Regions from separate parts of the Homo sapiens genome. Here region 1 is linked to region 2. The links come from fine-mapping of genetic effects on gene expression. A gene starts in region 2. The other region holds a variant in brackets. All regions are shown on one strand. Distances are between the middles of the regions. Region 1 overlaps LINC03041 (long intergenic non-protein coding RNA 3041). Region 2 holds the start of BNC2-AS1 (BNC2 antisense RNA 1).

Region 1 (5,387 bases), 510 kb after region 2:
AGTGTGAGAGAATTGCTTGACATGGAGATGCACAGAAACAAGAGAAGTTTGGAGTCCAATTTCCTCTTCTGTGGCCCACCCAGCCTCTGGGGTTGAAAGCGTGGCCAGGGAAAGCGTTCTGTTCCCGTACACGCAGGGATGTCTCTGGCTGGGTGACAGCCACTGACCCACCTCGTTTTTGTTCTGCAGGTGTTGGAAAGAGGATGCAACCATCCCCAACAGGGAAGGGTGGAAAATGCTGCACTGTGCATGGGTGAGTGTGCACATGTGTGTATGTGTGGTCCTGGGAGCAAGGGCCGGGCAGGGACCAGTCTGCAAAACAACATTAAGAAACCGAAACATTTTCCACTGAGAAACAGAATTACTGCCCATGGAATTCTTACCCAGCCTGAGAAGCGAGCAGCAGCCCCTCCTTTTCATTAGTTAAACAAAGAGGGTTATTTTTCAAATGAAAACTTTCAGTGTGGAAAACAATCTAATTCCCGGGGCTTTTTGAGAAGTGAGATTCTCAGTGCTCCAATAAACATATCTACGTGGATATGCAGCTGCAAAGGCAGTGTCGGTGCGCTGACCAAACGAGAGGGCAGGCTTGGCCAGTGGGGGACACGGGGACTTAGCTTCAGGCCTCTCATAACAATCCCAGGTAGAAAGGCCAACAGAGGGAATGAACCGTGGCCTGGAAGATTTGAACTGTTCTGCGAGAGAAAAAAAGCGAAAACAAAAATATTTTCTGTAAGTCCATTAAATGATCTCCTTTCTTCCTCCAAGTCAATGAACTCCTTCTGGTCGGAAAATAATCTGCAAACTCAAGCCCTGCTTGGTTCAGTGGGGTGTGTTCCGCCTTATTGAATTCCTGGCCTTCAGAGATCTTTCAAAAAAAAAAAAAAAAAAAACTTGCACCCACTTATGAACCCGTGGGGTAATGTCAGCTTTCTTTTGAGGGGTTCTCTTCATGAAAGCTCCTGGGTACTTGCATTTGTTTAAGAGCGGGCAAGAATAGGAAGGCAGACTGCCAGGGTTCAAATTTTAGCTCTACCACTTAAAAATAGTGTGTGCTTACTCTCTCTGGACCTCAGCTTGCCCATCTGCAAACAGGAGTAAGAACGGTACCTACATCACAGAGTTTTCATAAAGATTACATGAGAAAGTGCTTACAAAGTGCTTACCACAGTTTCTGGACAAAGGAAGACCTCAAAGTGTGGCCATTATTATGAAGTCAAAGGGACATGGCATATGGTCACAGACCTGAACTTTTTAAATTAATAAATATCATTCTTTCAGGTTTCTACTTTTCCCATCTCACTAATGGAAAGCATGTTGTTTAAAAAAATAAAAGCAGACACAAAATAGCCTCTCTTCAAATCAGAGCTTCCTTCTCTAATCAGTCCGTGAATGTTTCGGGGAGTGCTCTATTTAACTTGGCTGGCCCCTGGTTTTGCCGTGAGTAATACACTGGGCTTCATTTCAAACTCCACACAGCCAAGATCACTGGATACTTGAGCTTCCCCAAGCTGAGTTGATACAGCTGCTCTGCCCCTGGTCACTGGTGAGTTGTCCCTGTGGATTCCAAAAGGTCTGAATACAAACAGGCCAAGGTGCATGGGCCAGCCGAGATGGTCAAGGACATGGGTTCCCACTGAGCAGGTGTCCAGGTGAGACAGACAAGACTGAGGAGGCCTGGGGAGCCCTACAGTGAAGTCAGAAGAAACTGAGACAGACAGAGGGTGGCCAGAGATTATGGAGAGAGGGGCCTCGCTGACACTTGGGGAGACCAGTGTTGCTTGGAGCATCCTTGCTCTTACAAAGGCAGCATAGGTGGTTGAAAGAAACCATCCTGATTTTGACGTTGCCACAATGATAAACGAAGGGCATGAAAACTCTCCAAATTAGGGTCTCTGAGACCAATTAGGTCAGACGATGAAGATAGATTTGCTTGAAAAATAAAATTGAGTATGGCTTTCTTTTAAACAAGGCTTCATTTCAAACGGACCTGAATAAACCAAATTCAATTTAGACATGTTATTCCCCAGGAACTTAGCTCTGGCATGAAATAAGGCTTGCCTGAGGCCACTTGAGAACCGCAGTCTGTGGGACAGCCCTGTGATGGACAAATAGAGTAGAGTGTTAATTTTGAGGCCTGTCGAACCCCAGTGACAGGCGGGCTGGTAAACAGATTGAAGAAGCTAATGACTATTTAGTGCTTTCCAGGACAGGAAATGTCTCTTTGGCTTCTGAGGTAGCAACACCCTTACCTTAAAAGGTTTGGATTGATGATCTGGGCCCAATAAAAGCCCCTTCTGAAATCTGTTGGGAAGCCCAAGCAGCATTTCAAAAGTGAAAGATAATGAAGATGTTCTAGAAGCAATATCATTATAAGTATACATTATAAATGATAATTACAATTAATCATATTAGCCTTCATAATCCCCCAACATTATAACTCAACAATGGTAGATTCATCTTCCTTGTGTTCT[T/C]TGGAAGAAGATTTTTGCCTTGAGCTACACATTTTCTCCTTTAATTTGACTTGTGGTGGTTTCTGCTTTCTGACTGATTCTCCGTCTCCTGAAGACAGGCATGTGATGGGGAGGGAGGTTTGGGAATTAGATGAAGTTGTGGGGTCATGATGCCCGGCAAGTTCTAGAACCCCAGAATTTACTTGGCCCCTGAAGGAGACACTCGAACAGCCCATCTTGTTATTTCAATGCTGTCAGAACTCTTTCTTTCATGCCTCTACATGTGAATCCATGGTCAGGCGTTCCCCAATCCCCGCTGCAATCTAAATCGGCCTCCTCCTTTTATTCTCTCTCATAATTCCCTCTTCTTTCTCCCCAAGCATTAATCATGGTTTTTAATCATTTCTTTATATTTATTTGATGTTTAGCTCCTCATTAGATATGAGCTCAATAGGAGAGGGGTCATGTCTACTTTGATCACTACCTAGCTTTGTGACTGGAATAGGCAGGCAACCTATAAATAATTGTGAATGGAAGACAGAGTGGGTTGCACAGCTTGGAAAAGCATGCCCCTTAGAATGAAGCCCTCTCTTCTTTCTCTTCCCATTGACACCAGACATTTACTATCTCAATATATGCCACAAAGGCCCACAGTGACTTCCCGCATGCTGAGTCCAGTGGCTTTCTGGGTCCTCATCCCTCGGTTGAGTTGTAGAGTCTGATACAATGAACTCTGCCCTACTAGAAAGCCTGCTTTCTTGGCTTCTGTGGCTCCAGGCTCCCCTCTCTGGTCTATGCTCACTGACTCCTTCCTCCTCTTATGCTGTAAAGGGACTAAAGCCCATGGTTCTGGACACAGCCTGATCACATCCTCATGCTGTTGCTTGTTTTGACAGCTCCTCCACTGTCTTGGCTCCAGCCTGCAGCTTTTGACTGGGACCTACAAAGTCAAACATTTCTAACCCTGAAACGCTCTTCCTCTTGCCTTCTTTTTCTTCTCCCAGTCACCAGGCTGGACAACTTAGTGTCTTTCCTCAACATCGTTCCTTATATTTTCCAAATAGTCAACATATGAAAATACTGAAAATATGAATTCGGTGTCTTCTCATTGTCTATGACTCAAATCTCTTGATTGTCCAGACCTTCCCATCTTTTCTCAATTTCCTGCTGCACATTATCCAAATTTCTCTTATGCCAATAATGCCTTTTCTATTAATACTGTCAACATTCTACCTTTCCTTTAAGGTTTATCTCAATTATTTCCCACTTTAAGTCCCCTGTGAGCTTCCCAATCAATTACAATTTCTCCTGCTTTTAACTACCAACACACTACATATCTTTCAGTTGGCATTCTCTTAACTTTTTATTGAATAATGAATTTCTATGTATTTGTCCATATTTTCAGGGAAAGCCTAATAAATAGATCCCTGGAGAGACTGACCTAGATAAATCAAAAGCATAAACTACTAACACACACACTAAAGACATTAAACAAAATATTAAGATGATATTATGAAGAATTTTATGTCAGTGGCTTTGAACATGCAGGTGAAATGGACACACGCCTAGAAAAATGCAAAAATTGACATAAGAAAAAATGGATAATTTGAATATTCACATATTTGCTAGAGAAATTGAATCTATAATGTAAATAGATTCCTACAAAGGAATCTTGAGGCCCAGACATTTGAGTGAGGAGTTATTTCAAACATATGAGGAAAAAAAAAAATGAGTGTTACACAAATTCTTCCAGGGACTGGAAAAAGGAATACTTTGCTACTCATTTTATGAGGCCAGCATTACTTTGATACTGAAACTTGTCAAGGACATTCCAGGAGAAGAAAATTATAGGCCAATCCTTCATTGTAATATAGATATGAAACTCTTGAGCAAACTAGTGGCAAACCAAATCTAGAGATATTTTAAAAGGATCAGATATCATGACAAAATAAAGTTTCTTTTAAAAATGCAAGGTTGGTTTAACACTAGAAAATCAATCAATATAATTCACCACAGAAACAAAATAAAGAAAAACCATATGAACACCTCAAAAGATGAATAAAAAGCATTTGTTAAAACTCAGAACTTGTTCATCACTGAAAATATAACTGGCATCAAATTAGGACTAGAAGGGAACCCTTTCATCTATAAAAGTCTGTACTTAATAATGAAATACGAACACTTCTGCTGGAGACCAGCAACAAGACGAGGATGTTCACTCTTACCATTTCTATGTAACAGTGTACTGGAGGTTCTAGCCAGAGTAGTTTAGACAAGAAAAAGAAATTTCAAAATTTAAGGATTAGAAAAGATACAAACCTGATAGTATCTGTGGACATGATTGTATGCATAGAATCTACAGGTGAATTATTAGAATGAGTCAGCAATTTAGCTAAACTAATGAATATAAAGTCAACATACAAAAATCAGCTATGTTTTTGTATACTGGCAACAAATATTAGAAAATAATACTTTAAATTTGATGCCATTTATAATAGTATTTAAAAAATTAAGCACCTTGTTAGGAATAAATTTAGCAAAATATGCACCTGACCAATGCACAGCAATGCAGAACATTGCAGAGAATAGTTTTTAAAGACTTAAATAAATGAGGAGATATAACATGTAAATTGGATTGGGAGACCCATAGTTGTAAAAATGTTAACGCTCTTCAAATTGGCCTATGCTTCCATGCGATACTAGTCAAAATCCCAGCAGATTTTCTTTCTCTGTCCTTCCTCCTTTTTCCCTTGCTTCCTCTCTCCCATGCACTCTCCCTTCCTCTCTCCCTTCCTTCTTAAAATTGGTAAGCTAATTCTAAAATTTACGTAGAAATACAAAGTGTCAAAAATAGTCAAGACAAAATTGAAAAAGAAGAAAGCTGAAGGACTTGTACTACCAGAGATATCAAAACTTACACAGCCACAGTAATTA
Region 2 (5,387 bases):
CTACTTCTGAGCTTTAAGAAAAGGTATACTTTTTTCCTTTGCCATTCAGTTTCTCATTAGCTAACATCCAGTTTAGTAATTAATAGCCTGAGGTACTAGATATTAAATAGTATATATTTATATTTGGCAAATGTTTATTGTGCATCTTCTATGTTATAAAAACTGCTAGGCTTATTTGCTTACTCTTTAGAGTATAAGGTCACATCTCTATGTACGTTATTTAGGAGTTTCTATGTGGTTATAAATAGCCCAGCACATACGAGATGACTTTCAGGAGCTAACATTTAGACCATAACTGAGCCAACTTTACATTCTCTTACAGCTGAATATTTTACTTTCTTCAGTGTAATTAAAAAAAAATTTAAGTATCACAGTTTTACAAATGTTAAAGCCAAAGACTGGTGTCAGATATTATGTGTTATATCAGAAAGCATTGTTGAGAAAAATTCCCGGGGAAGGGCCCTAGCTTCCCCTTGCCCTGTGCACCGTGATTGTGGTGCTGCCTGGAGTGTGCATAAGTGTGTATCTATCTGTATATCTGGAGAGGGGTTAGTGCAGGGTGTCATTTGGTGCCTGACAGTGGAACAGTGCAGTTGACTCTTAGCTCTGCTATCCAATGACATGCAGTGGCTGAGAGTTTGAAGCTGATGGTTGGGTCTCCAGTGCCGCCTGCACACCTGACAGGCAGCTGTTAAACTGAGCAAAGGCAAGCTTGGGGAGTCACAATCTATGCATAAATGATAGGGATATCTGTGCAGAAGGTGCGAAAGAAGCTCTGACCCCCTCCCTCCCCCAAATCTCCCCCTTCCCAAATGAAATGCACAGTTCAGCCAGCTTCTTAACTACACTACACTCCTGCTACTGGCTGCCAAGAGGCTCAAAAAATCCACCTTCACTTTTCAGTCAGAAGAGGCAGAAGTGGATGTGAGAGAAAGAGAGACACAGAGAGACAGAGAGCCAAAGAGGGCAAGAGACTTGACTTTAAGAGACTCCTGTACTGACAACTCCATGCAGTTCGGAACCAGAACGACTACGGCTGAACCAGGGTTCATGGGGACATGGCAAAACGCTGATACTAACCTCTTATTCAGAATGTCCCAACAGGTAAGTTACTTTCTTTCTTGATTTTTTTTTTCTTTTTTTTAAGAAACCTTGAATTGTTATGGGCACTTTTGTTTCTGGTGTTTTTCTTTCTAAATACTTTTTAAAATGTGGTCACTTCCTAGTTAGGCTCTTGTTTTGTCATAACTGTGTTACTGGAATGTGCAGGGTTACTTCATGGTTTCCCTAAGGGCGTCTTAAAAGAAAAAGGGGAAAGGATACCGAAGTAAAAGAAAGCAGAGACATTGTTGAAAAGTTTCACAGTACAATCTGGGTCAGGGGAAGACTTAATTTATTTCTTTGTTTTCTGTTGAGAATGAAAAAAGCCACCTCCCAACAAATGTATCTATCAATATGAATCACTTCGTCCAAAGTGTTTGCTCTCTCGGAGTAGGTTCCGCAACCTAAAAAACAGTCATCAAATCTCGGGGCCCCTCAGAACAGCCCTACTGACTTCATGTGGCTGGAGGCAGCTTCGTTCAGACCTGAGAAGAGAGACGAGGCTGTGCAGGCTTGGCTGCCAGCGCCGAGGGTTGCTGGAGGAGTCGGCGTGCGTGGCGGGCTGTGCTGCTCGGTCCTCGCTCCTCCGCTCCGCTCCTCCTTGCCAGCCAGCCCTCTGCGCCCGCCCCTGCATTCCCTTCGCCGGCTCCGGCCCGCTCTCCCGCCCGCCCGCCGGCCCGCCGGCGCACTCACTCGGGCGCAGCCTCGGCGTCTTCCCCAGAGCCGCTCCTCCGTCCCGGCCGCGCTGGAGGCGTTCGGCTTGCTGGCTCTGCTGGGAAAGCCGACGTGGTAGCGCGAGGCCATCGGTTACTGATAATTAATCACCGGAGCCGGCGGCTCGTACCATGCGCTCCGTGATACGCGCCCTGTGCGCCGGTCTCCTCTTGCACAATTGCTGGCTCCTTGGCTCCGCGGGGGAGCGAGGGTGAGAGGAAGCGAAGGGGACACAACCCAGAAACTTTCATCTTGGATTGTGCTCAAGTGAGGGAGGGAAGTTCCCTGGTGCCTCCCTCCTAGACACGTCTTGCTTTTCCAAAGCCTACACCAAACCCACACAAAGCAAGTTAGTTTGATATTATCATCCACACACAAAGCAAGTTAGTTTGATATTATCATCCACACAGCACGAAAGTACTATTGACAAATATACTTGGATTTTAAGTTGACGGCGGTTATTAAGAAATGTTGTGCCACTCAAGAGGAAAAAAATACTGCAACTGCTTTTTTTTTTTTTTTTTTTAAAAAGCTTTTGTTTGTAAGAGTTCACGAAAATTAAATACTTTGAGTTAGATATTTAAAGTTGTTGATAATAAAAAAAAAACAATTTGCCAGGCTATAAACTACTACAAGTTTAGAAATACATTTGCAAGCGATAATACCTACAACCAGGGTTTTGTAGCATTTAGCTAGAGAACAGTTTTAGCACACAATTCTAAATAGGATAAATGCATTTGAATAAGGTATATTTTGACATATCCTGTAGAGGGACCCTGATTACTGCTGATACAGTAAGCTGGGATTTAAATGCAATCAACATCAACCCAATAAGTAACTCTTCATGTGCAATTTCCCATTCTTTCAAGTGAAAAGTTCATTTCCACACAGAGATGCTCCTTGTCACTGCAGAGCGCTGTGAGAGGTGTTTTCCGCGACGCATCCCTGCCTGGGTGGCTCTCGCGTGTTGGAATGCAGTGTTTTCGCTAACCTTAGTACCAAATAACTTGTGCTTCACTTTTAAAACTAGATGTCACCTTCAGGGTTTTCCTTGAGTTAGTGGAGGTCGTGTGTGTGTGTGTGCGTGTGTGTGTGTGTGTTAGAAGGGAAGATTGGCTTACGTCTCCCTCTAGCTAGAAAAGAGTTAATAAAACCAGATAGAGATAATGATCAATTGATAAATGGCTATTGAACCACATAGATGGTGTTAGATTGCTTATTTGGCACTAGCCCATTTCCAAGTAGATTTGAATCTAAGGAGATTTTGTCATGGAAAACATTTTAACTAAAAAACAAATAAAGTAATATAAATGATGGGTCAGAATTAGGACAATTTATGATGTCTTTGATCCAGCTGTCTGACTGTGTGGATATTTTGTGTGTACCTGTGTGTGCATATATGTGTAATGGTGAGCATCAGTGATTATATGGAGAGAATAGAAATATAGGGAACTAATTTATGCTTAATGGATGCTATTAAAACTGTATAATATTATGCTATTTATGAAATAGAGTAGTACAACAAAAGGAGAGAAATCACAGTTTTAAATATGTTTTCTTTTTTTTTTGGTTTTGATGTAGTTAGCAATCACTCCTATCCCCCCAACCCACCTTTTTCTGTCATGGTCACTGAATGTTTACCTCTTGTGCATTTTTGGAAAGCATGTAAAAGAGGATATGAGCTTGCATTTTTTTTCTCTTCAAGATGACATTTTAGTTTGTATAAATATTACATAACTTAAGTTCAAACTATGTGAGTGAAAGTATGTGTGCTGTTCATATTTAATATGTTTGTTTTTCTTACCTGTAGTTCATCAGCAATGCTGATTCAGCACGTGTGTGTGTGTGTGTGTGTGTGTGTGTGTGTGAGAGAGAGAGACTTATTGAAATTATATCTCTGATATCTCTTGAAGCCAGCCATTTAAACGAGTATTACTTTCAATATATACAGTTACGCTAGTTTTTGTTACAGGTAAAAGTTTGTCCAGTTTAATCAAATATGTAGAATTCTGTACATCTCATTGCTGAGGCATAAAGAGGTTTCTCTAGATTATGATTATTTTATTTCTAAGTAAAATTTACTTAGCTTATGAAATGAATAAAATTTATTGGGTTATTTTTTTTAAAGTTTTCTTTAATAGTATAAAAACTAATATTTTCCTGATTATTTATTTAGACGTTTGAAAACTCTGACTAGTAGGGCTGCTATAAAAGGTTTCAAAACTGAGTTACAGATAATTTACCATCAGTATTTAACTATAGAGAAAATTGTGGGAAATGTCCATGAATACTGAAATTTAATAATCTAGTTTTATGTGTTCTATTAGTAAACTAGGAAGTAGGGATACAAAAATCTTTGTCTTTTGTTTCATATGAGCAAAGTTGGATCTGCTTAAATGTACATCTTTCATTCTGTCTAATAGTAACAAATAATCACAATCTGAAGCCAATTTAGATTTAGTGGGATGAAGTATGTGCCCCTAAAGTTCAAGTGAAGTCTATTTGACTACATTTTCCTGTGCCTGTACATTTTTTCTTCTATACTCAAGTATGATTTTCTCAAATTATTTCTATGTATATAGCTGAGTATTTGAGAACATTAAAGGGTATGACACTTGTGTAAAGGGAGTTCTTCTTTGGATCAGTTTGATCAGTGACAGGTGGAGAAAGAACCTTATTTTGCCTATTTTAGTTTCACAAGGTACTGTTAAAAGCAAAAAATGAGGCTTGCTTTTCAAAGTTTTTTTTTTAATCACACTTGAGGAGGCAATTCTTCTATTTGTATAAATATTTTGTGCATTTGAGAGAATAGTAAATAAAATTCTTGTAGCTATCTCAAGGGATGTAATAGTCCAGTCTATTTAAAAATCTTTTTAGAAAGGAAACCATAAAGGTATATAGCTATAGCCCACATTTAATGTGTTACTAGAGACATTTACCTTTTATTATTGGTGAGGTATATTTAACCTGTTTCAAATAAAATGTAGATCCCTTAATAAGGTCTTTTTTCATACTTGAGTGAAATACTAAGTTAGGATTATAAATGACTCTCTGCATCATTATGTAGTAATTTAGGATTCACCCGATGATGTAACAAAATTAACAACATAATTTCATTGTGAAACTGTGTCTTATTAAAGAACAACTGTCTGACATTCTCTTACAGTTGCTTTATTTAACTTCATGCAAATATTATTAGTAGTGACATTTTTCTATTGTGCATTAGATTCTCTCATTAGCATGATGTGTTAGTTATCACCAGAGAAATCATTTTTTAGATAGGTGAGGGGCAAACCAAGAAAGCTAAAAATTAAATCAACGATTTACATTAATACCAGAGCGTCTGCTCACCAGAGATATGACAGAGTAAAAGCAAACTTTCTTACTAATATAAAAATCTAGCACCTTTCAGAGAAATGATAAATAAAATATAAGAAATGTATAATAACATTGCTAGAATCCATTTAAAACAGTGCTCAATATGAATTTTCCTCAAGAAATCTTTTTTTTCTATTCATATAGGCCAACAATCTCAGTTTCTGGAATCTATATTTTTAAATGAAAATGTTTTT

What was found.
Region 1: its variant is fine-mapped to the expression of BNC2-AS1 in thyroid (GTEx, PIP 0.96).

What each region holds. Positions count from the first base shown.
Region 1 is chr9:16,210,082-16,215,468 of GRCh38, reverse strand. It overlaps LINC03041 (long intergenic non-protein coding RNA 3041), which reads left to right. Exons shown (of 4, transcript NR_171034.1): 3 at 190-253. Among named protein-coding and RNA genes, the nearest start is that of LINC03041, 64 kb to the left of the region's middle. The variant T/C (reference allele first, on the strand shown) is at 2,475.
Region 2 is chr9:16,723,514-16,728,900 of GRCh38, reverse strand. It overlaps BNC2-AS1 (BNC2 antisense RNA 1), which reads right to left and starts at 2,087. Exons shown (of 3, transcript NR_151723.1): 1 at 1,946-2,087; 2 at 1,795-1,870; 3 at 1,377-1,586. BNC2 (basonuclin zinc finger protein 2) reads left to right here. Exons shown (of 7, transcript NM_017637.6): 3 at 904-1,104. RefSeq lists an enhancer at 2,003-2,504.